4 separate regions of the Homo sapiens genome follow, and regions 2, 3 and 4 are each linked to region 1. Evidence: fine-mapped expression QTL. A gene starts in region 1. Each other region holds a variant in brackets. All regions are shown on one strand. Distances are from middle to middle.

Region 1 (7,475 bases):
ACTGTGAGCTCATAAGGGCGCCACCTGGGTTTCATTATCTGCTCACTCTCTAGCACTGGCCACTCACAAAAAAGCCCTTCTCGTGGACATGAGCACAATGAAAGGGTAGAATGAGACCCAAGGCTCTGGCCTAAGGGTTTGTGGTGAGCCCCTGCCAGAAAAGAGTGGCATTCTCTGCAGGCGTGCACCACGCTTCCTCTGTCATCACCACCCCTGTAGCTCTCTGTGGCCACAGTTGGAGCACTTCGCCCCACCCCACCCACCAAATTCCTTTCTCATGGAGAAGATGCAGCAGTTGGAACGGGACAATATACAAAGGAACTAAGATAAATAATGCATGGCCGGCACAGTGGCTCACACCTATAATCCCAGCACTTTGGGAGGCCAAGGCATGAGGATCACTTGAGGCCAAGAGTTCGAGACCAGCCTGGGCAACATAGCAAGACCTCTGTCTCAAAAAAAAAAAATATATATTAGCCAGGCATGGTGGTGCACACCTGCAATCCCAGCTACTTGAGAGGCTAAGGAGGGAGGACTTGAGCCCAGGAGTTTGAGGATGCAGTGAGCTATTATCGCGCGACTGCACTCCAGCCTGGGTGACAGGGTGAGACCCTGACTCTAAAAAAATAAATAAATAAAAGGTTAAAAAATAAGATAACTAATGCAAAATAAAAGCGCACAGAGGGTTCCAAGAAACAACAGACTTTCACCTGGATCTAAAGCAGAGACACTCACCTCTGACCCCCAAGTGCTGCCCCAGAACTGCTCATTGACCTTCCTCCCTTCATCACCCCTTGGTTCAGCAGCTCTAACCCAGGAGCCCTTCTCTGGGGCTGCAGGCTCTGGGAAGCCTCAAACACCATCCTGGCTGGTTTTCTGTTCCATGTGGTTAGGATAGAACAGAAACCCACGCAAGTTGGGAGTCTGCCCCAGCTATGACTGAGCCTTAACTCAGTGCCACTTTCCTGGGCTGACTGATTCCACCTTCTGCGCAGGTTAATTCTGAGCATCTATCCCCCAATCTATCTTGGGGACAACCTTCCAGAATGAAAAGCACTCCAACCAAATCACTTCAACCATCACAAAAAGGAATGCTGCAAAGTGAGGGCATTCCGGCAGGAAGGGCCAGCCAGCATGAAGGCTGGAGCTGGGAGACAGGGAGCTGGGTTTGGGAAACGGTGTGATCTCCCATGCTGGATAAGCAAGAAACTCACACAGCAAGGGAGTGGAGGTAAGGCTGGCCGGCAAGAGAAATTGGATAGGGCATCAAAGGGCCTAGAATGTTCCCAAACTAAGGGCCTAAATGTTTATTTGAGAAGCCACAAAAGACATTTAAGTTTCTAAGCAGGCGATGGCCCAATCCAAGCAACACTTTTTAAAACTGTGGCAGGAGGATGGGGGTGTTTGGGGGTGAGCAGCTGGGGACGGGAGCTAAGGGAGGAGGCTGTGGGCAGAACTGGGAATTCCATATCTGCTCCAAGCCAGGGTGGAGTCCAGTGGAGGAAAAGTACGTTTTGCTGTTAGATATTCTCTGTGGGCACTGGGGTAGGGAGGAAAGGGAAGGGGGACCCGTTAAGACCAAACAAACAGGTAGCTGCAGGACAGGGAGAGAAAAGTATTGGAGATGATTCCCAAACTCCAAGCCTGGTGGGCAGCAGGAGGAGGTGCCCAGCACAGACACAGGGGAGTCAGGAAGAAGAGCTGGCTGGTGGAGAGTGAACCTGTGGAGACCAAGAAGCCCCATCCCAGCCTAGGGACAGAGCCTCTTGGGATAGGGACCCTCCCCGGAGGCAGGTGCTCCTCTCCTCTCTGAGGGCCAAGCCCAGCCCTGTCCTCACCCACTGATGTTCAGGACTGACAGAAGTGAGAGTCCCATATGGGGAGACCATTTCCTCAAAGATGTTCTCTGAGACTGTGGAGGAACGTGAATTCTGTGAGGGGAGAACAGAAGAAGAGCGCCAGGCACAGCAGCTTGAGGTGCTCAGAGGGCAGAGGAGAAAGACAGTGTGCTCTGGTCATCAGGGCAGTTTCCCAGGTGTGTGTAAATATATATACACCAGATATATATATTTCCCAGGTGTGTGTAAATACATACACATGCATATATATATGTGTATATATATATATATATATATATCTGGTCACCAGGGTGGTTTCCCGTGTGTGTGGGGTTGGGGGGTGGGGTAGCCCACTGCTGCCAGGAGGTCCCAGGCCCTGAAGCCCAAGAGAGACCACGGAGTCTGAGAGCAGAAGCAGGAAGGCAGGGCTGGAAGGGAGCCAGCACACAAGGGCCCCAGGAGTGGCTTGCTGGGGGCCAGTCAGGCATCCTTGGCAGAGCGTTCCTGTGAACGGTCTCAGACACAGGAGGGGCAGAAATTGAAGAAGGAGGCGAGGAGGAGGGGACAGTTCTTTTAAGAATGGGGAGATCTGAGCAGAGAAAAGAACATATTGAGACACAAACAGGAGATCGGTGGGGTAATCTCAGGAAAGGCAGAAGACAGGACTAAGCAAAAAGGTTCCACATCCATCTCCACAGTGGAAGACCGAGAGAAGAGAACGGGTGAAAAGACAGAAACGAGGAGGAGCATACGCCGCTGATGGTGCCAGCAGGGTTCTGCCAAGATTCCCTGAGTCCTCTCCACTGGGTAAGAGGAAGGGTGTCTGCTGGAAATGAGAGAGCCAGAGGTGGGTCTGAATGTTGGGGAGAGGAGTGGAGCAAGTGTGGAACAGCTCTGGGGGGGCTTCTCACATGTAATGTGTGTACAGGTCTTGGTAAATTGCAGGTTCCGATTCAGCAGGTCCCGGCAGGGCCTAAGAGTCTGGATTCCTCACCAGCTCCCAGGTGATGTCAATGCTGCTGGTCCGGGGACCACACTGTGAGAAGCAAGATTTAGAGAGGCAGATCAGGAGATGGAGAAAGAGACTGGCTTAAGAATTGTCTTAAGGAGAAACCCATGTTTGATAATCCCACCTAGGGTAAAAGCTGAGACCTGAAGGAGTCCTGGTGGGAATGGCAGCCCCCTGTGGGTGATGGGGAGAGGCATAGAGAGAAGGGGTGGTAAAGAGACCAGGAAAGGAGGTGAGAGGGCCTCTGTGATGGCAGGAGAACCAGCAGTGCCCCCAGGACGCCTCATCTGGGCCAATGTGTGACAGAACGCTAACTCACACTTGGAGGCCCCCCAGAAGAGGATGGGAGTGAGTTGGAGCAGGAAGGTGTTATTGCAGGGGTGTCTGAGCGTGAACATGGCAGGCAGGGCAGGTGGCCCCCATGCTGTTCTGCAGGAAAGTGCTGGACTCAGTCTGGGCTTGCTCGAAGCCTGGCCAGGACAACGTGGGGAGAGGGGCAGAAATGTCTCTGCCCCACGGTCAAGGGCCAGACGACTTCTGTGCCAGGAACTAATAAAAAAAAAGGAATGGGATCTGAGACGGGACGCGGCTGGGGAGAAACAGGAGGTGAGCTGGGCTCTGAGCCTACCTGTCCAACTCGCAATCAGAAATCAGGAGGTTCCTGAAAGGCACAGATGGAAACTGAAAATGCTTTAGGCTTAGGTAACCCAGCATCAGGAATCGGGATGGTTGGATGCAGGGACCTCGCCCAGCTTGTCTGGGGCCGCAGCCTACGGCAGGGACGTTTCAGTCCTTAGCTGGGGTGAAAGTGAGGTCAGGGTCGCCGGGGAAATGCGGGAGTACAGTCACGCGGGAGAAAGACGTCAAGAGCGAAAGCTCGGAGGCGTCAAAATGAGCAGCAAGTCCAGGCACAAGGCGTCGGGCGCGGAGAGTACGGCGGGTGCCGGGGGAGGGAGATGAGGCCGCGAAGACGCCGGGGCTTCGTCCGGCGGCGACGGGGAGGCCGCGGAGGTTCCCGAGCGCAGCGGGGCGCGCACCTCCCGCTCGGGCCGGGCTCCCTCGCCGCGCGGCCCCGGATCCTCCCTGCGCGGGTTTCCGTGGCCCCCGCCGGGCTCTTCCGTTCCCTCCCGCGGCCTCGACCAGGCCGCAGCCCCCAGCCCAGGCGACCGACTCGCCAGGGTCCGCCCCGCCGCCGCGGCCCGGGCCCGGCCGCTCCTCCCCCGATGATGTCACGTCCCCGGCCGCCCCTCGGCCGGCCGCGCCGCCCCGCCCCCGCCTCCCCCGGGCCCCCGTCCCCTGGGCCCGCCCGCTCCCGACATCCCTCCTCCCGCCTGCGCTCCCTCCCTTCGGCTACCGCTCCCCCGGGAGCGGCGGCGGCGGCGGCGGCGGCGGCGGGATGGCCCGGGCCCGAGGCCAGGCCCCGGGGAGCGGCGGGCGGCGGCGGCCGCGGCGGGGCGGCGCGGGAACCGGGCCCCGGGGGGAGTCGGCCGGGCTGCTGCTGCTGCTGCTCCAGGTGCTGCCGCCCGGGGCTACGGCAGGGCCGGGACGCCGGGGCACGCGGGGCGCTGGCGCTGGCGGCGGCGGCGTCTGCTGGCCCGGCGCGGCCCCAGCCTTTCCCCGGGACGCGCGGCTGCTGCTGCTCCTGCCGCCGCTGCCGCCACTGTCGCCGCCGCCGCCGAGCTCCGCGCCCGCAGCCTCCGCCTCCCGGATGGTAATCAGCGCCCCGCGCTGGCGCCGCGGGCGGGCGGGCGGGCGGGAGGTGGGGGCGGCGAGGGGGAAAGGGCGGGCGGCCCCGCGCCCCCGCCTTGCCCGAGGCAGCTCCCGGGGCGCTCGGGCCCCCCCTCCGACGACCGCGGCCCCGGGCAGCCGCCAGAGCGCGCCTCTGGGGCGCCTCCGCGCGGACCGGGTGCGGGCTCCGCTCCCCGCCCTCCCCGCCCCGCTCGCAGTCCGCCCGCCAGCGCTCAGGCCGCGGGGGAATCCCTCCATCTCCCCGCCCAGCGCCCCAGGAGGGGAGGGGACAGCGCCGGCGCCCGCGGACCCGCTTTCTCCGAGGGAGCGCCCAAGAGGCGAGCGCGCACTGAGCCACCCGGACTCGGCGCTGCGCTGCTGGAGGCGCCTGGTGCCGTCGGGTCGGGCTGAGCTAGACGCCCGCAGCCTCAGCGGGACCGGATCCGGGGCGGCGGGGGCGCTCACTCACCGCGCGCCCTCATGTTCCCTGCGCAGGACGCTCTGCCCCGCAGCGGGCTGAACCTGAAGGAGGAGCCGCTGCTGCCCGCCGGCCTGGGCTCAGTGCGCTCCTGGATGCAGGGCGCGGGCATCCTGGACGCCAGCACCGCGGCGCAGAGGTAAGCGCTCGGACCGGACCCGGTGCGCTCGGGTTGGACGGCTGCGCGCCGCCTCAGCTCAGCTTGCTGGAGCTGCTGGAGCCAGGGGCGGAAGGAGCCCTAACTCTGGACGGTCCCGGCGAGCTCCCCGGCCCACCCCGTCCGGAGTGCCTGTGCTGCCTCCTGAGGCTGTGGGGCGGGCTGGGGCGGGGCTTCTGCCTCCACTCCGGGCTGCCCCGGTAGATTTCTGACGGCCGCTCGCGGGTGCGGCGGTGAACGCCACCCCAGCCGGGCTGTCTATGGCTCTGAGAGAAGAGGCAGAGCTCCCAGCCATGACCCACAGCCACCGGCCGTCTAGGAACGTCCAGCCCCTCCTTCCTGGGCAGTCCCAGTGACTCTCCTTGTCCAATTCCGCAGCTCTCTGTCAGGAAAGGCACGAAACCCAGCCCCCTTTTTCCTTTCCCACGCCCCTCAGAGTTGGCGGATGGGGGTGTGCAGAGCCAGAGAAGCGGCTGGGGGCTGGACGGTGGCGAAGAGATGAGGTGGGCAGTCGGCCTGGCTGGACTGATTGGCCTGGGAACTGGGCAGGGCCCCTGCCTTTCCCTCGGGTGTTTTTCTGGTAGGTCCTTTGGAAGGCAGAGAGTCCCTGGGAACCCAGCACCCGCGCCGGTCTCCTCTGACTCCTTTGCAGGGGTCTGGGAGTCTCAGTAGGGGGTTGACTCCAGGATTTGAAAGCGAACTTTAAAAGTTTATTGACCTGCCCCCAAAGCCCCTGCACCCCCTGGCTTTTTGCACCTTCAGCTGTGACCATGGAGGGAGGCATTTAGGTATCCTATGGGGAGTCACAGTGGTTAGGATTAGGGAGGTGCCAGCTCTGCTGACAGCTGGGACAGGGTGGGCACTTGGCTTCCCAGAAGTCTGAGCTGTTGCAGCAGCCCGAAGGGATTCTGAATGGGGGGCTTAATGCAGACCGGGCCTGACACAGGAGCCCACATTCACACTCCGCAGGACGCCTCAACCTCACCGTGTAACAGACACACACCGCGCTTCATGTGCAAACTGAAGCCGTTTCTGCACGCCGGTCCTTTCCTGGCTGTCGGGAGGGAACGCTGGGGGGCTCTGGAGCTGATCTCTTACGGAAGAGAAAGGGTCTTGTGGATGAATTAATTTCCAAAACTTTTACAAGGGATATAGCTATATTCTAGAAAAATTGGAAAATAAAAAATTTAGTCCCTCCTCTGTAATACAACTACTGTCAACATTTTAGTGTATTTCCTTCCTATTTTTCTTCCCATTAACTTGTGTTTTCCTGTGCTATGCTTACAATTCCACCTCCTGCCTATTCTTCTGTTGGTTCTGGCTTTTTTTTTTTTCAACTTGAGAAGGTTAGTTTCTTAACATGGCCCCCTCTTTGGCCCCACCACCTGCTGTGTGGCGAGAGCTCTTTGTAAGAGTGGGTGAGGAGTGCTGATGGGGGCCTCTGGGAGTTAAGGTTCCATTTCTCTGCAACCTTTCCCTCTGTGCCTACCCAGAGGCAGGTCTGATGAAGGGGAAGCAGACGTGAAGGAGGCAGTGCCCTTGGAGACTGCGTGGGGTTCAAGAAGTGTGGGGATAAGGCTTCCCCCAGAGCATGGGCCACAGCAGTGGTGTCTGCGCATAGTGGGGTTGAGTGGGCTTGGGGTGTCCAGTCTGACTCCCCACATTGTGAGGGCCACATTGCTGGGATGCAGAGGGCTTCCGCAATGTGAACAGGGGCTTTCTTCAGGCTCGGTCTGCTAATCCCCAAGTGTGGAGACTTCTCTGTCTCAGGACATAGACTAGGAGCCCCCACTCGCTTTGTTGTTCAGCTGACTTTCCTCCCTGTCCCAGAGGGAGCTGCCTCATCCTTCCTCCCCACTCTTCCCCGTGTTGTCTGTCATCACTACAGTTGTATCTGGTTCCTCAGTCAGTCCTCTGCACGGGTCTTCTCATCCCAAAACAGCAACAATGAAAATTCCTCCCCCTGGCCCTGCCTCCGCCTTCATCACGGCCTGGTTTCTCTCCCTCTCATCTCTGAGAAACTTTCACGGAAGTGCTCTCCCAAAAGACTCCCTGGGATCCGAGAGTTGGCTTTGACACCTTCCTCAGCCTCACCCCACAGTTGCCTGATTGTCAAGGCTTAGGAATGTTCTTTTCCGTGTCCTAGTCCCAATCTCAGTGCCCTCAGCCACCACTTTTAGCAATGAAACCCCCTGGCCCTCCACCCGCTTCCTCCCTGGCTTGAAGGTTAACTGCACCCTGGTTACCACCTCAGCCTCCTGGCCC
Region 2 (7,475 bases), 50 kb after region 1:
CCTGGGCCAACCCCACATGGGCCTGAACTATTACAGTAAGCTCCTCATTTCCCTTCCCTTCTCTAGCGTAGGCCCTTTGGTGCCTGTTTCTGCCTGAAGGGAGACATCCCCTGTAGCCTTCCCATCACCCAGAGGATCCAAGTCCCGCATGATTTGGTCCCAACCCCAGGCCCCAAGCCACGCTGCCCTCCTCAGTCTTGTCAGGCACCACTGATCGAGTGAGCCGTCTGCCCCGTGGTGGAGCTGTTAGTCCCTTTGCATGGAGGGCCCTGCCTCCTACTTCTCGGTGAGATCCTCCAAGACCCATCACCCAAGACCAAATTGGAGCTCTAGGAAGCATTCCGCCTCCCCTAGGCAAAATAAGTGGCCACTGCAGATTACACTTGGCACATCCTCCTGCCGTGCCCACCACTCTGTCTTCCTGAGTTTCTCTTTCCTGTTGGGTTGTAATTTCCTTAAGATTTTATACAATGCCGCAGTGCCTAACACATAGAAGGTATTTAATAAATCTTTTTAAGTGGGTGTATGGAATGAATGAGGGGATGAATGGCCCAGCCCTCTGTGTCCTCCTCTGTCCCTGAGCTGAGGGTAGAGAGAAGCAGACAGTGAACACGCTGGAGAGCCAGAAACTGCTTCAGTTTCTTCGGAGGCTCATGGGAGCCCAAGACAAATCTTTTAGGATAAAAATTAGCGGAGATCCCTGTCCCCTTATTTCCCCATCTCAGGCTGCAGTGCCAGCTTTGGGCTTGGAAACACATATCCAATTTAATCTACCCTTCACTCTTAACCTGCTGTCTTTCCCAAGGCCTTCACAGGACACACTGTTGTTTGGAACATCCTGCCCCAGCTCGTATATCCATTCACTGCATACCTTCTTTCTAGATCTGCACTGTCCAATATGGTAGTCTCGAGCCACATGTGACTATTTAGATTTATGTTCATTAAAATGGCTGGGCGCAGTGGCCCACGCCTGTAATTCCAGCACTTTGGGAGGCCAAGGCGGGTGGATCACCAGAGGTCAGGAGTTCATGACCAGCCTGACCAATATGGTGAAACGCTGTCTCTACTAAAAATACAAAAATTAGCTGGGCATGGTGGCAGTCGCCTTTAGTCCCAGCTACTCAGGAGGCTGAGGCGGGAGAATCGCTTGAACCCAGGAGGTGGAGGTTGCAGTGAGCCGAGATCACGCCACTGCACTCCAGCCTGGGCAACAGAGCGAGACTCCGTTTCAAAAAAAAAATAGATTTATGTTAATTAAAATGAAATAAAATTCAGTTCCTCAGTTGCACTAGCCACATTTCCAGTGCTTAGTAGCCATGCGTGGCTAATGCATATCATTCTGGAAAAAGTTCCCTTAGGGAGCACTGTAATCTAGACACGTTCTTCCTTGCCCCTGACAGACCTGTAGTGGAAAATGCACTCGGGCTCTCCTTCCAGCTCTTTGAGTTACTGACAGCTTTCTCTTTGGAAGTGAGAACATAATTTCAGCCCTAAGTATCTCATGGGGATGCAGGGAAGAAAAAGCTGGTGAAAAGCCTTAGCTCTGTGACCTAAGTTTTCTTAGGGTGGGATTCCTGGAAGCAGAGCCTGAGATGGGGATTCTTGTGAAAGAGGTTTATCAAAGGAGAGCTCTCAGGAGAAAAGGAATGAGTATAGAGGGAGTTTAACAAGGAGGTGGTCTCGGTCGGAGTCTAGCGTCAGCCTATCCCATGCAGAGGTCTGGAGTGTGAATGGCCAGAGAGTTGGTCCTCCTTGTAATGTCAATCTGTCATTGGCTGTGGGCTACTGGTGGGGAGTATATGCTCTTGGCTGAGGGTAATTCTCAGATTACCTTGGGGCAGCTGCGAGCCATTTGACAGTCTACACTGCAGCTGGGGCATGAGGGAATCAGGCAGGCATCAACTCACTGTAAAGTTCCTGGACGTTGTCTTCCAAAAGAAGCTCCAGGCCAGGCATGGTGGCTCATGCCTGTAATCTCAGCATTTTGGGAGGCTGAATCAGAAGGATCGCCTGAGCCCAGGAGTTTGAGACCAGCCTGGGCAACGTACTGAGACCTCCGTCTCTACAAAAAATAAACAAAATTAGCTGAGCATGGTAGTGTGACCTGTAGTCCCACCTGCTCAGGAGGCTGAGGTGAGAGGATCACTTAAGCCTGGGAGGTCAAGGCTGCAGTGAGCCAAGATCACACCACTGCACTCCAGTCTGGGTGACAGAGCGAGACCCTGACTGAAAAAAAAAAGCAGCTCCATCCCACTCTGCCTTCTACCCCCTGAAAACCTAGAATTTAACAGTGGACTCACATCAATTGCCTTCACACTTGCCTTCTCTACTGAGTGTCTCTTTTGAGTAAAGCACTGTGCTTGGGGAGTTAATGCAATGGTGTCACCCCTGAGAAGTAGTGTATAAGTTAAATGTTTGCACTTTAGCCATACTCAACCCAGAGTTTGCTTCTTTGGTAGGAAATACTCCATGGACAAGACGTTTCTTTTCATTTCATCTTGAGCTGTTTTTATGGGGAGGAATAAAAAGCGTTTATAGACATGATTACGAAGGCTAAACCAAGTTCAGGAT[G/A]TGGTAAGGTGGGTGTGTGGGTGAACTACTCTGAGCTTTCCTTTAAGTCACAGGCATCAGAGTCATGATGCATAACTACCATCCTTTAGATACTTCATTAGTTGGATGACCACTGTTCACAGCTCTTCTTCTGGTCTTTCATTAAAGTTTTTATTGAGAATGTGGAATACAGGCAGAATGGAATAATGAAGCCCATATAGCCCCAATGAGCTAGAACAATTTTTAACTATTGGTTCCATTGTTTTTTAATACTGAAGATCTTCTCGACTGATAGCAGCAGTCACAACAGCCAAAAGCCCAAAACTAGGAGCAAGAGGACCTGAGTTTGACCTCTGCAACCCTGTTGAATTTGTAACCTCGAGGAAATCCCCACAACATACTATCCTGGTCCCCACACAGCCTGCCTCTCAGAGCTGCTTTTGAAGGCAGGCTTGCCGCTGCAGTACCAGCCTGGGTCGGACTCTGAGAGCCCCACTTAGAAGGACTTCTAGGACTCTTGTCGGCATCAGTGGTTCATAAAGACCCGTTTTCATATCCTTACTTTAGCATTGACTGTGACTTTGTCAAGTCACAGTCAATAGCTTAGCCTTGGTTTTCTCATCCGTAAAGTGGGAATGGTTGCAGACCGACACGACCTGGGGGATTGAGCAAGATAATGCCAAAGTGACAAACTCAGCAGCGTTCTGGGCAGTTGCTAAGGTGCTGAGTGCCTGATGGGTTAGACCTGGTTCCCTGTTTTTCTTTTTTTGTTGTTTGTTTGTTTGTTTTGTTTTTGCATAGTTACCTCCCTAATGCATTTCATTTGTAAGTCATGCTTGTATTTATGGTGTTTTCTTCCAGTAATCCTAATGGAAGCTTCTGCGACTTGGCCTTTCCCTTACTCCCTTTTCTGTGGGGTCTGGATTAGGAAGCCATGCCCTCCAAGAGCCTCATGGCCACAGTGGGATGGCACTGGGCACTGGTCCTGCAGTGGTCACCCTCCATGGGGATCCTCAGGTCAGAGAGGGCTGTGGACTTGGGCTCACTTTACTCCTCCCCACTCCCTGCCCCCTGCCCCCATCCTGGTCAGGAAAAACGGGCTTTCCTAGACTCCTTTTCAGCCCCATAGGGCCAGGAGTGGGGAGGGGTGCTCAGAGAACACCCCCAGGCTCATCCAAGCTTTAGAGGTGGGGGGTGGTTCCATGCTGACAAGCAGGGCTTCAAGCCCCTCAACAAAGTGCACATCCCTTCCTGCCTCAAGTCCCTACAGGGTGTCCCAGGCCCAGAACCTTGTCCTCACTTACCCAGCCCCTTCCCAGGCTCTCTTCTTTCAAGGGGAACACCTGCCCGCAGTTCCCATGTCCACATGTGTTCCATGTGTGTGTCTCCCTCCAACTCCCCTGCCCACCAGGTCTCTCACTCTCCCCCAGTCCCCAGCCCCCACATCTGGCCTCTGTGCAGACATGGCTTGGAGGACCTGCTGCCCCTCCTTCTTCTTCCCTGACTCCATTCTCATCCTTCCCTGACTGCTCAGGTGGAATAAAGTGTCACCCCCTGGGCGTCAGCCAAGGGAGAATTCTCCTGGGTTGTTCTCACGTTCGCCCTTCCAGCCTCTGCGGTGTGTCTGTCTCCCCCTGGTGGGCAAGGAGAGGACCAGGCAGCGGCACCCGGAGGGTCGGCAGTCTCTCTAGGTCCAGGGGAGAGCCCGGGCACTGCTCCTGGTTCTAGACCCCAACGGAAGTCCTCTAATTCCAGGTCCAGCCTTGGAAGGCAGGAGCCTTTAGGGGCGGGTCACCTTTGCCAAAGCACAGTCTTCAAAATGTCAAAAGCGTGATTCTCATACAAATTGCTACTGAGCATGTATCAAAGTTTTCTATAACTTATTGATGAGGGAACCAATGGGATGACAAAGCTGATTCAAAGAAGACGAAGAGAAAGTGATACATGTGCGAGTGTGTGAGTGCGTGCGTATATGGAAAGGGGTTGAGGGGAGGGAGGGAGAGGCAAGGGATTGTGTGGAAAATACTGGAATAAGATGGCCAAATTAGATATAAAGCTAGTTAATGTCCATAGGACAATTTTATCATCTTTAGGGCTAATTTCTCCACCAAACAGAAATTATTTACTTCTCCTGACAAATATCATTTGTTTCCAAGTCATATGAATTTGGGGGCGGGGAGTATAAATTCACAGGGTACAAGTGAAAGTATACAATGTGTGGTGATCCAATCCAGATATTTAGGGTGTCCATCACACAGGTACAATACATTTTGGCTAAGTATAGTCACCCCACTCTGCTATCAAACATCAAGTTTATTCCTTCTATCTTGCTATTTGTACCCTATAACCCACTTCTCTTCTCCCTGCCCCCCAACTCACCCTTCCCAGTCTTTATTATCTGTCTTTCCATGCTCTACCTCCAGGTCATCAAAGTTTTTATTTATTTTTTTTATTTTTTTTTTTTTGAGACGAAGTCTCACTCTTGTCCCCCAGGCTGGAGTGCAATGGCGTGATCTCAGCTCACTGCAACCTCCGCCTCCCGGGTTCAAGTGATTCTCCTGCCTCAGCCTCCCGAGTAGCTGGGATTACAGGCGCCTGCCACCACGCCCGGCTAATTTTTATATCAGGTCATCAAAATTTTTAGCTCCCACTGACAAATATCATTTGTATCTTATCAGTTTTCTACAAATTAGCACTTAACTTTATAGTCTGTGCTCCAATCAATCAATAGTAAATGCGAGTCACTTTCCCCTAGAGACATACACTCCAGTGAAGCATTGTCCGATATTAATATAATGCAAGCAAGCCACATATGTATGTAAATATGCTTTTTTCTTTTCTTTTTTCTTTTTTTCTTTTCTTTTTTTTTTTTTTTTTGAGACAGGGTCTCACTCTGTCACCCAGGCTGGAGTGTAGTGGCTCAACCTTGGCTCACTGCAACCTCCACCTCCCCCGTTCAAGCAATTCTCGTGCCTCAGCCACCTGAGTAGCTGGGACTACAGGCATGCACCACCTCACCCAGCTAATTTCTATATTTTTAATAGAGATGGAGTTTCGCAGCATTGGGCAGGCTAGTCTCAAACTCCTGGCCTCAAGCGATCCACCCACCTCAGCCTCCCAAAATGCTGGGATTACAGGCACGAGCCACTGAGCAAGGCCTCAAGTCACATATGTAATGTTAAATTTTCCAGTAGCCACAAGAAACTGATACAACTAATTATCATAATGCATTTTATTTAACCCAATATATCTAAAAGATGAGCATTCCCACATGAAATCAACATAAAAGATTACTGATGAATTATTTTATATTCTTTTTTTCTAAGTCTTGGAAATCTGATGTGTGTTTTACACTTACAGCACATCTCAAGTTCGGACTAGCCACACTGCAAGGGTTCATGCCGCGTGGGGCTGGTGGCTATAGTAATGGGTAGCGCAGCTCCAGTGCGGTAGTTCTCAAACTTCAGGGTGAACCAGCATCACCTGGAGGGCGTATGAATGCAGAGATGTGATTCTGACTCAGCAGGTCTGAGGGGAGGCCTGAGATTCTACACTTGTAGCAAGGTCTCAGGTGACGCTGACGCTGCTGGTCTTAGGGGGTGGTGCAGGCTCTCTGACTGGGAGAAGCCTCGTGGACTACCAGCTGGAAGGGAGTGAGGTTTCAGCCACACCATGGATGGTTTCGACTATGTGCTAGCTCTGAGGACAGGCCCAAAGGGAAGGGAGAAGGGGACTGACCCTCAGCCCCCACTGCAGGCCATGGTCTTGTGCAGCTGCTTTTACTCACCCACACTCTGCAGGTAATGCTAGCCAGGCTCAAACACTGAGGTGTCCCCATAGACAGAGGTGCTGGCAGGTCCCTAGGGCTCTCAGAAAGGGGTGGTCCTTGAAACCTAGAGTGGCCAGAAAATGGTGGCTGTACAGGGCGTGAGAATTGGTGTGGACCCAAAGGACAAATGAAACCTGTACTGTAAAGGGACAGTGGCAAGACCTGCTGAGCAAAGGCTTGGGGAAGGGCCAGTGAGGGAGCAGGAAACCACAGCCTTGGGGAGGGCAGAAGTAAAGGATGTCCCAGAGGCAGGACTAGAAGGTGTCACGGCAGCCGTCAATCGCTACTCTCCCTTCATGGGTGTGGAAGGATTTACCTACCCCGGGTCATGCAGAGAGTCCAGGCCTGGCCAGAGCCCCTATCTTGGCCCCTTCCCAAGGACCCTTCCTCTTGATCCTGTAGGTTTGAGTGGAGTGGGGTGCAGTGGGCACATGTGTCATCTTTTGGTGCAGTCCTATGCTTGTCGCATCTTCAGTGGTATCCAAAGGTGAGCCTTCAATCCCTTTAGGACAGAGACCATGCCCCATCCTGGTGTTTTTCCCTCCATCTAGCACCTGCCAAAGGACCGAGCACACGAGTACTTAATTTAAATGAGCTGGTCTGCCTGTGTGTGTGAGTAGGGAGTCTATACTCTGTCACATGTGAATGTGGGGCATGGATGAGGAACATGTCGCACATGTGGGTGTAGTGTGTTTACACCATGGGGTGTCATAAGGGGTGTAGGGAGTGATTAGTAACTAATAAGAGAGAAATGGAGTGCGCCCACTGTGCAGGTGTACCTCTCAGGAGCACTGAAGGTGTCTGCACCTTGGGGTGACCCATAGGGATATATATGGCATCTACACATTGGTGACTACTGTTTGGGGGCATAACAGCTGTCTGCACTGCAGGGTATCCTGCAGGGGTAAATGGATTGTCTACACTGTAGGGGTGCACCATTTGGGAAATATAGGGGGTGCCCACTGTGGGGGAACATGACAAGTGCTGAGAATGTAGACAGAGGCAGGACCCCAGGGAGAGGTATCTCTAGGAAGGTGACTGCCACCAGCTCCCAAGGAGGGGCTGCCTGCTGGGGACACCTCAGTTCCAGGGCTGG
Region 3 (7,475 bases), 43 kb after region 1:
AAGCGCTGGGATTACAGGCATGAGCCACTGTGCCCAGCCCAGCTTTGCTGTTTGATGACACTGTAAGTTAGCATAATGTGCTGTGACAAAGAATCCCCAAATGTGGTGGCTTAAATATTTGTTTAGTTCTCTCAAAACAGTCCAGGGCATCAGTCCAGGGTGGCTCTTCTCCATAAAGTCATCCAGGACCAAGCAGTCTTTTCCTCAGCTCTCCCCTAAGGTGACACCCTCATCTGTATAGCCCAAACAGGCTCAGAGATACCAAAAGGGGATAGAAGAAATAGGGCATGCAGCTTACTTATAAAGACATAACCTAAAGGTCCCACCTTACCTCTGCTCATGCCATTAGCCACACCCTGCTGCAAGGGAGGCTGGGAAAGATAGCGTCTAAATGGGCATCCCTCAACCTAGGTAAGACTCAGAGGGTTCTATCATGAAAAGAAAGGAAGGAAGCTAGATAACGGGGACAGCCAGCATTCTCTGCTGCGGACATCTGTCTGGCCACTTCTACTGTCCTTCTTCCTACGAACAAACCAAGTTTTTCTCTGTCCGTGGGTACCAGATGCCTCTCTCTCTTAAGCAAACCCCTGTAATCTATGGTATTCCTTTTAGAACAGGGAACTGGCACAGAATCCAGGCCTCCATCTGCCTGTGACTTGATGGGCCTTGTGCTTCTGGGATGTGAACGTGAATTCTTAGGAATAGAGCTAAAGCCAGGAGTACCTCACCTTTCACTTGCCACTTCACATTGTGTGTGCAGAGCTTCAACACACAGAATGTGAGTTTCTTTATCAGTTGCATGCTAGGTTGGGCCCCAGTCAAACTTAATAGTTCTATGCATTCTTGCTAGTAGGGTATTGAAGTTGCCAGTTATTATTGTTTGTTCCTTCAATTCTGTTAGTTTTTGCTTCATGCATTTTGGAGCTGTTATTAGATACATGTGCTTTTTTTTTTTTTCTTTTGAGACAGGGTCTCACTCCAGTTGACCAGGCTAGAGTGCAGTGATGCAGTCTCAACTCACTACAGCCTTAGGGCTCACTACAGCCTCAACCTCCCAAGCTCAGCTGATTCTGCCACCTCAGCCCCCTGAGTAGCTGGGACTACAGGTGCATGCCACCACACCCAGTTAATTTTTTGTATTTTTAGTTGAGACGGGGTTTCACCATGTTGCCTGGGCTGGTCTTGAGCTCCTGGATTCAAGCAATCTGCCTGCCTCAGCCTCCCAACATGCGGGGGTTATGGGCATGAGCCACCACACCCGGACTGTTATTAGATACACATGCTTATAATTGTTATTTCTTTCTGATGATAGACACTTTTATCATTATAACATGTCCTTCTTTGTCTCTCATAATTTTTATCTTAGTGTCTATTCATAAATTAGTATAGCCACTCCAGCTATCTTTCAGTTAGGGTTCACATGTTATCTCTTTTTCCATCCCTTTATTTTCAAAGCCTTTTGTACATTTGAATTTAAAGTATGTCTCACATAGACAGCATATAGTTGGATTGTGTTGTAGTTTTCTTTTTTAATCCATTCTGCCAATCTCTTCCTTTTAATGAAGCATTTCATCCATTTATATTTAATGTAATTGCTGATAGAACAGGATTTATGTCTGCCATTGTGCTTTGTGTTTTCTTTTTCTTTTATTTTTTCTTTTTCTTATTTTTTTTTGAGACGGAATTATAAAGAGTTCCCATATATCCCCTATCCCCACAAATGTGCAGTTGTCTTTTAAATTAGATAGGAAAACAAAATCATTACAAACAAAAATACATTTATGCTGTCTTTTATGTTTACCTATGTAGTGACTTTTACCAGTGCTCTTTATCTGTTCATGTTAATTCATATTACTGTCTTGTCTTGTTTCATTTCAGACTGAAGGACTCCCTTTAGTATTTCTTGTAGGACAAACCTGTTAGTGATGAATCCTCTCAGTTTTTGTTTATCTGAAAATGTCTCAATTTCTCCTTCATTTTTGAAGTTGATCATTTTAGAAGTTGATAGTTTTGCTGGACATGCAATTTTTTGGTCGATAGTTGTTTTCTTTTAACACAATATATCATCTCACTGCCTTCTGTCCTTCATGGTTTCAGAAGTTATGTGGTGATCTTATTAAGGATTCCTTATATATGACGAGTTACTTCTCTCTCTCTCTCATTGCTTCTCAGATCCTTTCTTTTTCTTTGGCTTTCAAAAGTTTGAGTATGATGTGTCTTTGTATAGATCATACACTTTGTGTTCATACTACTTGGAGTTTACTGAGCTTCTTAAGATGTGCTCAATAATGTTTTTCATTACTGAGCACATTTAGGAAATTTAGGGGCATTTTCTTGAATATTTTTCTGTCCTGTTCCATCTCTACTCTCCTTCTCAGATTCCCATTATACATATACTGGTATGCTTGATGGCTCCCACAGGTCTCTTAAGCTCTGTTCATTTTTCTTCATTCTTTTTTCTTTCTGCTTCTGAGCTAGATAATCTCAATTGGCCTATATTCAAGTATACTGATTTTTTTTCGTCCCACCAAATGAGATATGTTGTTGAGTTCCTCTAGGTCAGGGGTGTCCAATCTTTTGGCTTCCGTGGGCCATATTGGAAGAAGACTTGTCTTGAGCCACACATAAAATACATTAATACTAGCGATAGCTGATGAGAAAAAAAAAAAAAAAGCAAAAACATCTCATAATAAGAAAGTTTACAAATTTGCAGGCTAATTCAAAGCCAACCTGGGCTGCATGTGCCCCGTGGGTCGCAGGTTAGAGAAGCTTGTTCCAGGTATTTTTAAATTTTACTTATTGTTCTTTTCTACTTCAGAATTTCATGGGTTTTTAAAAATATAATTTGAAATCCTTTATTGATTTTTTTGGTGTGACTTCATTCTCATACTTTTCTTGAATTTTTTAGACATAGTTTCCTTTAGTTCTATGAACATATTTATAATTGCTCATTTAAAGTCTTTATCTATGCCAGCTGCAGTGGCTCACTCCTATAATCCCAGCATTTTGGTAGGCAGAGAAGGGCAGATTGCTTGAGCCTAGGAGTTTGAGACCAGCCTGGGCAACATGGTGAAACCCTGTCTCTACAAAAACCTACAAAAATTAGCTGGGCATGGTGGCTCATACCTGTAGTCCCAGCTACTTGGGAACTAAGGTGGGAGGATCACTTGAACCTGGGAGGTCAAGGCTTCAGTGAGCCATGATCACACCACTGCACTTCAGCCTGGGCAACAGAGCAAGACCCTGTTCCAAAAATAAATTAATTAATAAAGTATTTGTCTAAAAATTCTAACCTCTGGGCTTCCTCAGGGATAGTTCCTGTTGGCTGCTTTATTACAATGTATGGGTCTTACTTTCCTGTACCTTGCATGTCTCATAATTGTTTGTTGAAAACTGGACATTTTAATCATATAATGTTGCACTCTGGCAATCAGATCCTCCCTCCCAATTTTGTTCTTATTGCTATTGCTGTTTGTTTGTTTAGTGATTTTCTTGGACTAATTATATAAAGTCTATATTTCCTGTCATGTATAATCACTGAAGTTTCTGCTCTTGGCTTAGTTATCAGGCCATGATTGGACAGGCATTTCTTTAAATGCCTTGAATGCCAATAAGTGTTCAACCCATTGCCAAAAGGTTCTGTATGTGTGTTAAGACATGCCTTCAGTGCTCCAGCGATTTACAACTCTGCCTTGACCTTCACTTCCTGCTTGCTCAGGGCCTTGGGATAAACCAGAGGTGAGAGACCAGGGGCTTTCCATGCCTTTTTTGGGCATGTGCCTCTCCCTGCACATATGCATAGCTTTCTAGATCTCCAGGAATATGTCAGAGCTTTTCAGAGCCCCTGTGAACATCTTATTCCCCACTTTTTCCTTTAAAATATTATGGCCAAACTTTTATTTGCCCCCAACTTGTATTGCTGCCTCATGTAGCTGCAATGTTAAGCAATTGCCGCTGGCTGTTTTCAACAAACACCCTGAAGATAGGGTCTTTCCCACTAAGTAAGTTCTGAATCGGGTCAAATAACAAGTTCTGCAAATAAAGCTGTCAGGGAGTTGCTAGAAAGGTTAAAGAGTGAAAACTGACTGGGAATACAGCTTGTTGAGAGGCTCCAAACCCACTCTACCCCTTCCTATGGTTGCTAGCTTGCTAGTTTTCACAACTACAATAGTGGTTGCAAGGTAGCTGGTCTTCAACAGGGCTGGGGAGTAGGGGATGGGAATAGGGCAAATTAAAACACCACAAAGCTTTCTGTTCTTATTACAACTCAGCCATTTTTCTTGCCTCAATGTTCCTTGAGTTGTTGCACACATGTTGTTAATTTTTAGAGTTCTGAGAAAGTTGATTTTGACCATGTTTGCCAGTGTTCTTGTTTCTTTATGGAAGAATGGATTTTCAGAGGTCTTTACTTAGCAATTCCCAAAGTCCTGTCCCTGTAATTGTTATTTCTTACCTGGGCACAAGTTAAAAGTGCCTTGGGGGCTTTAGTCCAGCATTCATCCAGTCACAGTAATTTTTGACTCTTGAATTCTATCATGAATCAATCAGCACCTGTTGTGGGGCTGGGACTATGATGGATGCTTGGGAGAAGAGAGGCTTAAACAATGATCCCTGCCCTCTGAGAGCTTACAGAGCAGTTGAGGAGACAAATATAATTATGTAAACAACAATTTATAATTTTGAAAAAAATTCGTGTACTTGAAGAAAGGTCAGTAGAGATTATCTATAATTACATAATAATAAGAAGAAATAGAAAACAATGTAAGGCTTGAAGACCACACTATCCAATAGTACTTTCTGCAATGATGAAAATATTCTGTACCAACCAATATGGTAGCCAATAGCCACACATATTTATTGGGCACTTGAACTGTAGCTACCGTGACTGAGGAATTGAATATTTAATTGTGTTTAATTTAAATCAAATTTAAGAAATAACACATGGTTACTGTATCTGACATCACAGCTCTAAGACTTTAAATATTTGCTTGATTGGCCAGGATGACCCTGTGGCAGGGGTAGGGAAACATACCCTCCCATGGGAGGCTCATAGCTCTTCTCTGGCTCCTAGGGATAGATAGAAGCTGGGGGCTATGGATACTCCCTGGCATTTAATTGTGCCTGCTGCCTGGTGGGTGTTGTTCAGTGACACTATTGGAATAGTTTAGGTCCGAGCCACCTGGCAAAGGTAAGCTCTGGTCTACTCTATTGGGGGCAAATTTAGACCCTAGATCAGGCACATTATAAGTGCAATTAGATGAAAGGGGCTGTGGGAACTGCAAAAGAATCAGCCCCCTTCCTAATCCACTGGTCAATGCAACATTCCCTGTTTTCCTCTACAGCCACAAAACTAGCCCAATGTCATCCATCTCCTTCCACGCTTTCCAGCAGGATCTCCCACACTCATGCTGCAAGCACAGACTTCTGTCCAGATCCATTCTGGCAATCCCCCTTGAGGTTCCAGAACCTCCCTGCTGGGTCAGTGCTGAGGTGAGACTAAGGTTTCCCTCTTGCCACCTGAATGCACTGCACTTCCTTCCCCATTCCCCCCAACCCCCACCACTCTTTTCAGAGCTGAGAGCATTTGAGAGAGGGAGAAGCAGAGGGGGTTCAAGAGAGATTCGCTCATGTGCTCCGAA[G/A]GTCATATAGGCTGAGATGCCAGTCATAAGGACAAAGGACCCCTAATGAAGAGGAAGGACTTATGAGGAGACCTCTGGGCAGCCGAAGCCAAGCTTAGGGCCAGACTGGCCTCCATGCTGAGACAGGAGCAGAGATTTGGACAGTGCCTCCATAGAAAATTGGGGGAAGAGGACCGGGCGCGGTGGCTCACGCTTGTAATCCCAGCACTTTGGGAGGCCAAGGTGGGCAGATCACAAGGTCAGGAGATGGAGACCATCCTGGCTAACACGGTGAAACCCCGTCTCTACTAAAAATACCAAAAAATTAGCCGGGCGTGGTGGCGGGCGCCTGTAGTCCCAGCTACTCGGGAGGCTGAGGCAGGAGAATGGCGTGAACCCGGGAGGCGGAGCTTGCAGTGAGCCGAGATCGCGCCACTGCACTCCAGCTTGGGTAACAGGAGCGAAACTCCGTCTCAAAAAAAAAAAAAAAGAAAAGAAAAGAAGATTGGGGGAAGAGGGGGACCGCAGGCATGAGGCAGCCTGGGAACCATAATAGGTGGAGTGGAGGCGGCTAGTGAGTGAACCGCCTGCAACTTGAATAATAAGCTTTCTCCACAAAGTGGAGAGTTATTGAGGGCTGGGGACTCAAGCCAACCTGGGATGTCTGGCTATGTAACTGGGAGCAAGTTCTCACCTCCCAGAGCTTCAGTTCCCTAATGTGTAAAATAGAGCTGACCAATGAGCCTCCTGTGATTCTGGGAAGGAGAGGATGCTGTGGAGTTAGTAGGATGTATTCATGCAGTGCCCAGCACAGTGACTGCCTCAGAGTCATTTCTTACCCTCCTGCCACCCCACCCTTACCGATCATCTTAGAGTAAGTGCAGCTGAGCCTGGACGGCAGCAAGAAAGTTCAGGCCGGGCGCAGTGGCTCACACCTGTAATCCCAGCACTTTGGGAGGCCGAGGTGGGCGGATCACTTAAGGTCGGGACTTTGAGACCAGCCTGGCCAACATGGTGAAACCCCGTCTCTACTAAAAATGTGAAAAAAAAAAAAAAAATGGCACCTGTAGTCCCAGCTACTCAGGAGGCTGAGGCAGGAGAATCACTTGAACCCAGGAGGCAGAGGTTGCAGTGAGCCGAGATCGCGCCATTGCACTCCAGCCTGGGCAACAGAGCGAGACTCCATTTCAAAAAAAAAAAAAAAAGTTCAGTGGGAACCAAGGAGGAACGTCCTGCCTCCAGAACCAGAGCCCACAGTCAGGGGTAGACATCCCAGGCTGGGGATGGGTCTTTCTCTGAATAGGAAGGGGGACATTCTCACTTAATCTTCTGTCTGTTCTCTCTGCCCTGGGTGCTTGGTGAATTGTAGAAGATGCCAGGCCTTGCTAATACCCGCTACCCACCTCTCACCTGATTCATAGATAAGAGGTGCCAAGGTCTCTGGTCTTAGAGCCTGGGTCTCATCTACACCACCACCTCTGCCCAAGGCCAGAGGAACCCACAACTTCTTTCCTTCAGACTCCCACCTTCTCCTTTAAATCTCTTTCTGACTTGCAAGCACCCCTTCCAGCTCTGTGGCTTCTGCTGCCGTCCATGCCCCATCCCCCCTCCTCCCTCCTTTTTCTCTATCTCTCCTTCTCTTCTGTTCGTGGACTCTGATAGCCTGCATTGACAGAAGACTCCCCAGGCTTGAGAGGACTTGTGTGGGTGCATGTGTACATCTGTGTCCACACAGGCACACCATGGTGACCATGCACCAGCCCCTTCCTGCCGCTGCATGTGGCATGCCCAGAGGCCTCCCATTAGTGGCCACTCCACCCTTCCTCCTCTCCCCTCAGGCCTGGTTTGGGGAAAGTG
Region 4 (7,475 bases), 62 kb after region 1:
CAATCAAGGAAAACCTTTGGTAGGGAGTGCCTGCTGAGCCCGGCTCAACCGAAACCCGAGGGCTGAGTGGGGAGGTTGACCTGGGGAAGGAAGGGTGGTTGCAGAAGGAATGATAAGGACCGATCCCCAGAAGTGAGTGCTTTCTCTTTGCCGGGAAACTAAAGGAAATCCACTAAGTCAGGATCAGAGGTGAAGGTAGGGCTCTGAGACTGGTGGATTAGGTCGGGGCCAGGCTATCTGAAAAGGGCGGTGCGGGGATCAGGAAAAGGGGAAGGAGGAGGAGAAGGGCGTGGGGAGCTGGGTCAGACGCGCATACACACACACACCCCTTGCACAACGCCAGGGTAAGCAGTGAACACAACACACGTGGAGATGCAATGTAGAATCTGGCCGCTGGCCGGATCTTCTCTACTTCCATCCTCCCGCCCCAGCCCAAGCCACCCACTTCTCCAGTTGCTTCCCTGGGGTGCATGCAAACCTCTAGCCTTCAGATGCTGCAGAGAGTCCACTTGAGCCGTGATAAATGGAGATTGTTAAGTTTTTTCTTTTTTATAATAAACTCCTGATTTGACCAGATGAAAAGAGAAAACTCTCCATCGAGTCCTGCCCTTAGGACTATAACTCATATGTGTATACGGTTTCCCTTTTTTCTAATCACAAATGGGTGCATGTGTGTTCATACCAAGCGCCTAGGGCCGAGGACAGAGGCTGGCTCAGTAAATATTTGTTGAGTAAACAAACGAAAGAACTGAAACTTCCCTGAATCTCGCTGCCGGGGGTGCCTGGAGTTTTCCGGGGGACTTGGGCTGGGCCTGGTGGAGGGGGCTGCAGCGAGGCTCTCGGACTGGGCGCTGGCCTGCTTTTGGCGCCCTGCGTCTCACCCTGGGAGTGGGGGGCTGCGGGGGAGACGTCCTCCAAACGCCGCCCCCTTCCCCAGCTCTGAACGAGCCCACCATTGACTACGGATTCCAGAGGCTACAGAAAGTCATTCCCAGACACCCCGGAGACCCCGAGAGGCTGCCCAAGGTACTCAGAGGGGCGGGGCGGGGCGGGGCTGAGGGTGTCCTGTGGGCAAGGGGGTGAGGAGGGGCTCCCGAGGGCCCCTTGGTCGCCCCCAGGGGCTGCCCCTCCGTCCCGCTGTCTCTCCCCCTGTCCCCAGGAAGTGCTGCTGAAGCGGGCGGCCGACTTGGCAGAAGCCCTGTACGGAGTGCCCGGCAGTAACCAGGTATGGCGCCTCCGCCCTCCCAGCGCCGCCGGGACCGGGGCCCCCCAGCACGCGGCGCCCGCGGCTGCCCCGGCCGTGCCCCGCTCTTGTCTTCGCAGGAGCTGCTCCTGAAGCGCGCGGCGGACGTGGCCGAGGCTCTGTACAGCACCCCCCGCGCACCCGGGCCGCTCGCACCCCTGGCCCCGAGCCACCCACACCCCGCCGTCGTGGGCATCAACGCCTTCAGCAGCCCGCTGGCCATCGCCGTCGGGGACGCCACCCCGGGGCCCGAGCCGGGTGCGTGGGCCGCGCCTCCCCGCCGTCCTCGGGCGCCGCCACCGCCCCTCCCCGGCCGGCACCGCCCCCTGACGGCCGCGCTCTCTCTCGCAGGCTACGCGCGCAGCTGCAGCAGCGCGTCCCCCCGCGGGTTCGCGCCCAGCCCCGGCTCGCAGCAGAGCGGCTACGGCGGCGGCCTCGGAGCTGGCCTGGGCGGCTACGGCGCGCCGGGCGTGGCCGGCCTCGGCGTGCCTGGGTCCCCCAGCTTCCTCAATGGCTCCACCGCCACCTCGCCCTTCGCCAGTGAGTGTCCCCCGCCCGCGAGGGAAGGTCTGGGGCCGGGGAGCGGAACGGGACTCAGCCCCGCCCCCGCCCATCCCGGAGAGGTTGGGGCGCCGGCGCCGTGAGAGTCGACCCTGGCTCAGCCCTCGGGGTCAGGCCCACCGTCCCCGCCTGGGACCTCCCCTGCCGCAGAACCTCAACCCCACCCCTAGGCTGCACATCCCGGGGTCCTGGGGCCAGAGTACTCCGTGCACTTTTAGCCTTCTTTGCCGGTCCGTTATGCACATCGCTTCTAGGCCTCCGGTCCCCCTGAAGTGGGCTCTAATGGGTGGCGGGCGTCCATCTGAAACCTGGGACACCGCCCCCTTCCCATCTCGCGCCCGGACTTGGGGAGGAGGCTGGCGCCGCCTGCCGGAAGCCTAAGGAAACTCAGGGCTCGAGGGAAGCCGGCTTCCAGCCGCCCCCCAGCTCCCAGGACTCCAGAGGCCAGGTGGGCGTGGGGAGGATGTGGTCCCCGCGATGTCGTCCGGCAGAGCGAGCGAGTTCTGTGTGATCAGACAGAATTTGAGTTTCAGTGTCCAAATCAGGAGCTGCCGGGCATTCAGCAAGTTACTTATTTGAACTTGTTTCCTCGCAGTCAAATAGGGTCAATTCCACCCCCTGCTTAAGGTTGATCTCGGATCTGAATGTGCCACTGTGCCTAAAGGGCCAGTGTGTGATTTCGGAGTCCCAGCCCTGACTGTGGGCGCTGACCACATCCCATCTGGCTTCTTAGAGTGGGGAGCTCAGAGCTGGGTGGACAGGCAATGTCTGCATGTCATGAGTGAGTGACCTTCCGAACGGCTTTGATGCCTTGTCATTTTACACTGCCCTCAAGACTCTTCCATCATCAAGTTCCAGATCAGCATGTTCACAGCTCTTTTTAGCTTAGCTATTCAGCAGGCATTTATAAAGCGCCCACTGTATGCAAAGCCCAGGGCTTGGGGGATCCCCCCACTCCTGTCACCTGCAAGAAGCCTCCCTATCAATCATAAGAGAGATTGTCCCTGAAGTCCCAGGCGACTCTGCCGAGCTGGAGAGGTGGTGAAGGCTGTCCCAGAAGGAACTGGTCATGGCTTTGCCCGTGGTGCCCTCTCCTCTCCCTGTCCCATATTTGCCATTGCCGAGACTGCACTGTCTGTCCACCAGCCTGGCTTTCCTTGCAGGGCGTGTGTCCTGCCTGCTTTCTGGCTGAAGGCTTGAGCCTGGCCCTGTCCTCTGGCCTGGGCTCAACTTCTGGGACCCAAGGCCCCATAAGCCAGAGTCCACATAGGCCATGGCCTTCTGGTGTCCCTCCCAAGGCCCCTGCCTCTCCTGGCTCTTTGCTCAGGCCAGGATTGACTGCTCCTCCTTCCCTTCAGTTCTGGGGCAGTACCCTCACAGCCTCTCTGTGGGCACCCCCTTGGGCCAACACTGGTGGGGGTATGGAACATCACATACACTGTGGTCAACAGTAGAGGAACACTCTGCCCCAGTGTGCAGAACCCAGCCCAGCTGGGGTCTTCTGATTCAGCAAGAAGATCAAGAATTCTAGAGCTGCTTAAACCCAGCATCAGCTGGAGACACACTGGACTTGAGGGAGGGTTGGTCCCATTTCATGATATTGTCTTGACCGAGGCTTACCCAGGTACCCTTCCACTCCCCACGTTCAGGGTGCTTTGTGGCCCGACTCCAAGGGGTGTCATTCTCATTGAGTTTGCGAGAACATTCCTGGAGTGACATCAGAACTGCCCCAGCCAGAGGCTCAGGGGCTGTTTGCTTGGGTCTCTCTTTGTTTTTCTGCTTCAGCCACCAGCAACCCTGGAATGAATCACAACTCCCCACACTACCTACCCAAGGTACAAAATGTGGCCGTGAGCCCTGGGCATTGAGAGCTATAGTACATTTTCTGGCATTGGTCTCAAGCCCTTCATCGGGCTCTGGGGCCTCTCCAGCTGGCAGTAACTGTTGTCTTAAAGGAGATGAGGCTGAG[G/A]GCATTTGGAAGAGGGGCAGCTGTTGAAGGCATTCTTGTATCAAGGGAGGTAGGAGGGCCCTCTGATGCCAAAGGCAGCCTTCTCAGGCTATTGCTTTCTTCCAGGAAGCCCCACCCACCCCACTGCCTGCTGCCTGGACAATACTCAGATCACAGCCTTACCAGTCTTTACAGGAGAGAGGCAGGGAATTGGGTTCAGATGAGGATGTAGAAAGGTGGGATCCAGCGATGCCCCAGGCCTGAGCCCCCAGGAGAGGAGGCTGCAGGAAGAGGGGGCAGGCAAAGTCTGTGTGCAGGAGGCTCCCTTGCCATTCCCAGGAGGGCAAGCCGCAGCCTGGGTGGCTAGGGAGTTTGAGAGCAGGAAGATCTGAGGATGTACATCCCTGCAATTTGCTTTAAAATTGACCAGCTGGAAGTGGGAGATTCAGGAGACCACCCCCCCCCACAGGGCCCAGGCTGGAGATGACAAGGACCTGCATTAAGCTGTAAGGAAACAAAGTACCCCAGGGTGCAGGGGGAAGTGGGAGAGGGACAGAGGAGCATAGGGAACATTGGCAAGGAGAGCATATTTGAGGAGGAAGTTGGAGTGCTGTTTGTGATGCTGGGCAGAGAGGCTTATAACAGGAGCCTGTGCGTTCCCCCAAACTTCATCCCTAACTACTTGTTCCAGCTCTTCTGTGACTCCTGAACTATGACTCTAGCCTTGGCACCCCAAGCAAGGCTCATAAATGTTTCCTAGCATCTCAGAATCCCAGGGGTTTTCAGCAGAAATCCTGAAGTAGTCCAGCTGTTGCTCATCTCATTTTTGGGGGGTACCTCCCACTGTTTGTTTTTTTTGAATGTTCTGGTTTTGCTTTTGTCTTTACCTGGTCTGGCCCTGTCATCCCCAGCCCCGAGAAAAGGTCTCCAGAACCGCTGAGAGGTCAGGGCTGGCCCAGGACCCTCACAGCTCCCAGTGAGATCTGAGCCTGGTACCTGTGTCAGCAGCCCATGTGGGGCCCCAGCCAAGCTGCTCACTCTGGTGCTGTCTCCCTGTTGTGTCTCCCACCACCTTCCCTGCTGCGCCTGCCCCTCCCCGCCCCGCCCCGGAGTCATGCCCTCTAGCCCCCCGCTGGCGGCTGCCTCCTCCATGTCCCTCCCGGCCGCTGCCCCCACCACCAGCGTGTTCTCCTTCTCGCCTGTCAACATGATCTCCGCCGTCAAACAGAGGAGCGCCTTCGCCCCCGTGCTGCGCCCCCCAAGCTCCCCACCCCAGGCCTGCCCCAGAGCCCACGGAGAGGGGCTTCCAGGTGAGTGATCCACCCTGCCTCACTGTGGCAGGAAGGAAGGGCCCTTGTGGAGCAGCTGGGCTACAGGGGCCTGCTCTGTCCACATCTCACCAGTGCCTCATGCTGGCTAACCTGCTCTTCTTGGAGGACGGAGAGCAGGGAGCTCTGCTGGGGTCCAGGGAGGTCCCTCTGGCCCCCTCTGCCCTGGCCTCCCAGCCTGGGATGGTCACCATTCTGGATGCTCTCAGTTGACCACTTGGCCAAGGGGAAGAGACTCAAATCACAGTTGATGAGGTCTAGAAACTACCCCAACACTCCATCCCCATCCAGCTGAGCCCAGAGCAAAGACCCTCAGAGCTGGTGGGCTGCACGCCTGTACCTGTGCCTCCCTGTGTCCACCAGAGGGTAGCACACACCACTGTGAGGGACTGGGTCGCTGACCATGGAAGGGGACTGACCTTAGAAGAGGCTTAGCCCAGCTTCCCTCCCCGCATTTTACAGATTAGGACTTGAGACCAAGTCATCTTCCCACATCCCATTCATGAAATGGCTGTTCTCTCACTTTACCCATGTGCAGCAGAACCTTTGAACCAGCAGAGCCTTTCCTATCCACGTGGTGATTGGAAACTCACTGGGAGGACAGAGGAAGGGACTGGCTGTGGAAAAGGAGGAGGCAACAGGATGTGGGTGGGGCAGAACAGGTCCTTGTTGATGGGGATGGTGGGGGCCAGGGCCAGTGTCTTCCCTAAGAGGCTTACAGGTGTTTTCTTTTCTGGCTAAGGGATGCTTCCACGGGATCCCCTAGGACTCAATCTGGCATGCAGCAGGTGTTTAATAAATAGTCAAATTATTGAATGAATATATGAGTCAGAAGGGCACCGTTCACACCCACACAGAAGGCTGCAGTGCAGTTTGTGGGGCACTGATCTGGAAGAGGTTGGGTTAGAGCACGTCCTATTGAGTATTCCCCAAGACAATAATGGGTCAGAGCAACAGAGCATTAGGAAAGAATCAGTGTTGAAATTACGTAAGTGGCTACTGAAGAATTTGTCAGAGCCTTTCATGTGCCAGGGTACGTTGTGAACCTTCTAGGAAACAGGAGATGCAAATTTATTTGAGCACAAAAATGTATTTTTCTAACAGCATCTTGAGATTAGTTCCTGGGGAATGACCTTGAGATGCAGGAAGAGACACCCTCATGGTTTCCTCAGCCTGATGTAGGGGCTGATCAGGCTGGGATGCCTATCACAAGAGCAAGGCCAGTGGCTTGGGCCCCAGAACCATCTCCAAATCCAAGGCAGGGGCAGGTGGGGCAGCCTCCAGGCTGAGACAGGGGAGGGGGCTGTGGAAAATGCTCTATGGAGCCTCTGTGCTCCAGGGTCCCTGTATGAGAGTCCGGGGACGCTGGAAAGAGGATGGGAAAGCTCAGGGCCTGGGAGAACAACTGAGGATGATACATGTCCGCAGCGTCCCACAGAATCGGCTACCCTGAGGGCAGTCAGAGCAACTAGGTGCAGCCCAGAAGCTTCTGAGAACTGTGCTGATGCCCTGCCCTGCACACAGAATGGGGTCCCTTCCCACCAGGGAACCCCCTCTGCACAGTTCAGGCAGGCCTGTGATGGTGACTCAAACAATAACAGACTTTTGTGCCAGGGAGGGCGGGAGGGCAAGGGGGCTGCTTGGTGACCCATCCAGAGGGTAGCCCATATTCAGGGAAGGACTTGCCCAAGCAAGGTTTGAAGAAGGCAGGGGTTCTTAGTGGGGGAGGAATGCCCTAGATAGAGTAGACCTTAGGCTGAAGGTATGTGGGTGGGAAGGCAGAGATTTGGAGCCCACGTTCAAAACATTAAGAACATAACATGGCCAGATGCAGTGGCTCACACGTGTAATCCTAGCACTTTGGCAGGCCGAGGTGGGCAGATCGCTTGAGATCAGGAGTTCAAGACCAGTCTGGGCAAGATGGCAAAACCTCGTCTCTAAAAAAAATAGAAAAATGAGCTGGGTGTGGTGGCGCATGCCTGTAGTCCCAGCTACTCGGGAGGCTGAGGTGGGAGGATCACTTGAGACTGGGAGGTCAAGGCTGCAGTAAGCTGAGATTGCACCATTGCACTCCAGTCTGTCTAGCCTGGACAAGAGAGCAAGACTCTGTCTCAGTAAATAAGTAAATAAATAAATAACATACAAATATATGCCAAAGATTTATTTAACTCATCAGTGAGGGAGCTAACAGGATGACAGAGCGGCTTAAAGGAGACAGTGAGAGACTGAAGCCAGTAAAACAAGGAGGGCTGGAATAAGATTGCTGGCTGCAAACTGCTTCTACAGAGCAATAAACTTGTAACCTTCCTCTGGGGACTGTCTTTTCTACCAATGAGAAGTCATCAGCCATTTCTCAGCCTCCTCCAAGTGAACATCCATCCAACCGAGCAAAGCC

Alleles and levels. Alleles are on the strand shown, and positions count from the first base shown. SD is a standard deviation of normalised expression in the study named. Not every link is listed here.
For the expression in thyroid of the gene that starts at base 4,190 in region 1, G is the low allele of the variant in region 4 and A is the other (small effect, 0.24 SD a copy in GTEx).

What was found.
Region 2: its variant is fine-mapped to the expression of EBF4 in whole blood (TOPMed, PIP above 0.99).
Region 3: its variant is fine-mapped to the expression of EBF4 in whole blood (TOPMed, PIP above 0.99).
Region 4: its variant is fine-mapped to the expression of EBF4 in thyroid (GTEx, PIP above 0.99).

Annotation. Positions count from the first base shown.
Region 1 is chr20:2,688,591-2,696,065 of GRCh38, forward strand. It overlaps EBF4 (EBF family member 4), which reads left to right and starts at 4,190. Exons shown (of 17, transcript NM_001395167.1): 1 at 4,190-5,192. The coding sequence starts at 5,056. LOC105372507 (a long non-coding RNA gene) reads right to left here and starts at 4,030. Exons shown (of 3, transcript XR_937210.3): 1 at 3,476-4,030; 2 at 2,750-2,874. RefSeq lists an enhancer at 5,361-6,345.
Region 2 is chr20:2,739,083-2,746,557 of GRCh38, forward strand. All of the region lies in intron 6 of EBF4 (EBF family member 4), which reads left to right. Among named protein-coding and RNA genes, the nearest start is that of EBF4, 50 kb to the left of the region's middle. RefSeq lists an enhancer at 1-61 and a silencer at 4,214-4,263. The variant G/A (reference allele first, on the strand shown) is at 2,572.
Region 3 is chr20:2,731,158-2,738,632 of GRCh38, forward strand. The region is part of intron 6 of EBF4 (EBF family member 4); the gene reads left to right. Among named protein-coding and RNA genes, the nearest start is that of EBF4, 42 kb to the left of the region's middle. RefSeq lists an enhancer at 7,405-7,475. The variant G/A (reference allele first, on the strand shown) is at 5,640.
Region 4 is chr20:2,750,763-2,758,237 of GRCh38, forward strand. EBF4 (EBF family member 4) reads left to right here. Exons shown (of 17, transcript NM_001395167.1): 11 at 938-1,026; 12 at 1,160-1,225; 13 at 1,324-1,501; 14 at 1,595-1,783; 15 at 4,865-5,062. Among named protein-coding and RNA genes, the nearest start is that of CPXM1, 46 kb to the right of the region's middle. RefSeq lists enhancers at 1-301, 370-881 and a silencer at 1,463-1,642. The variant G/A (reference allele first, on the strand shown) is at 3,774.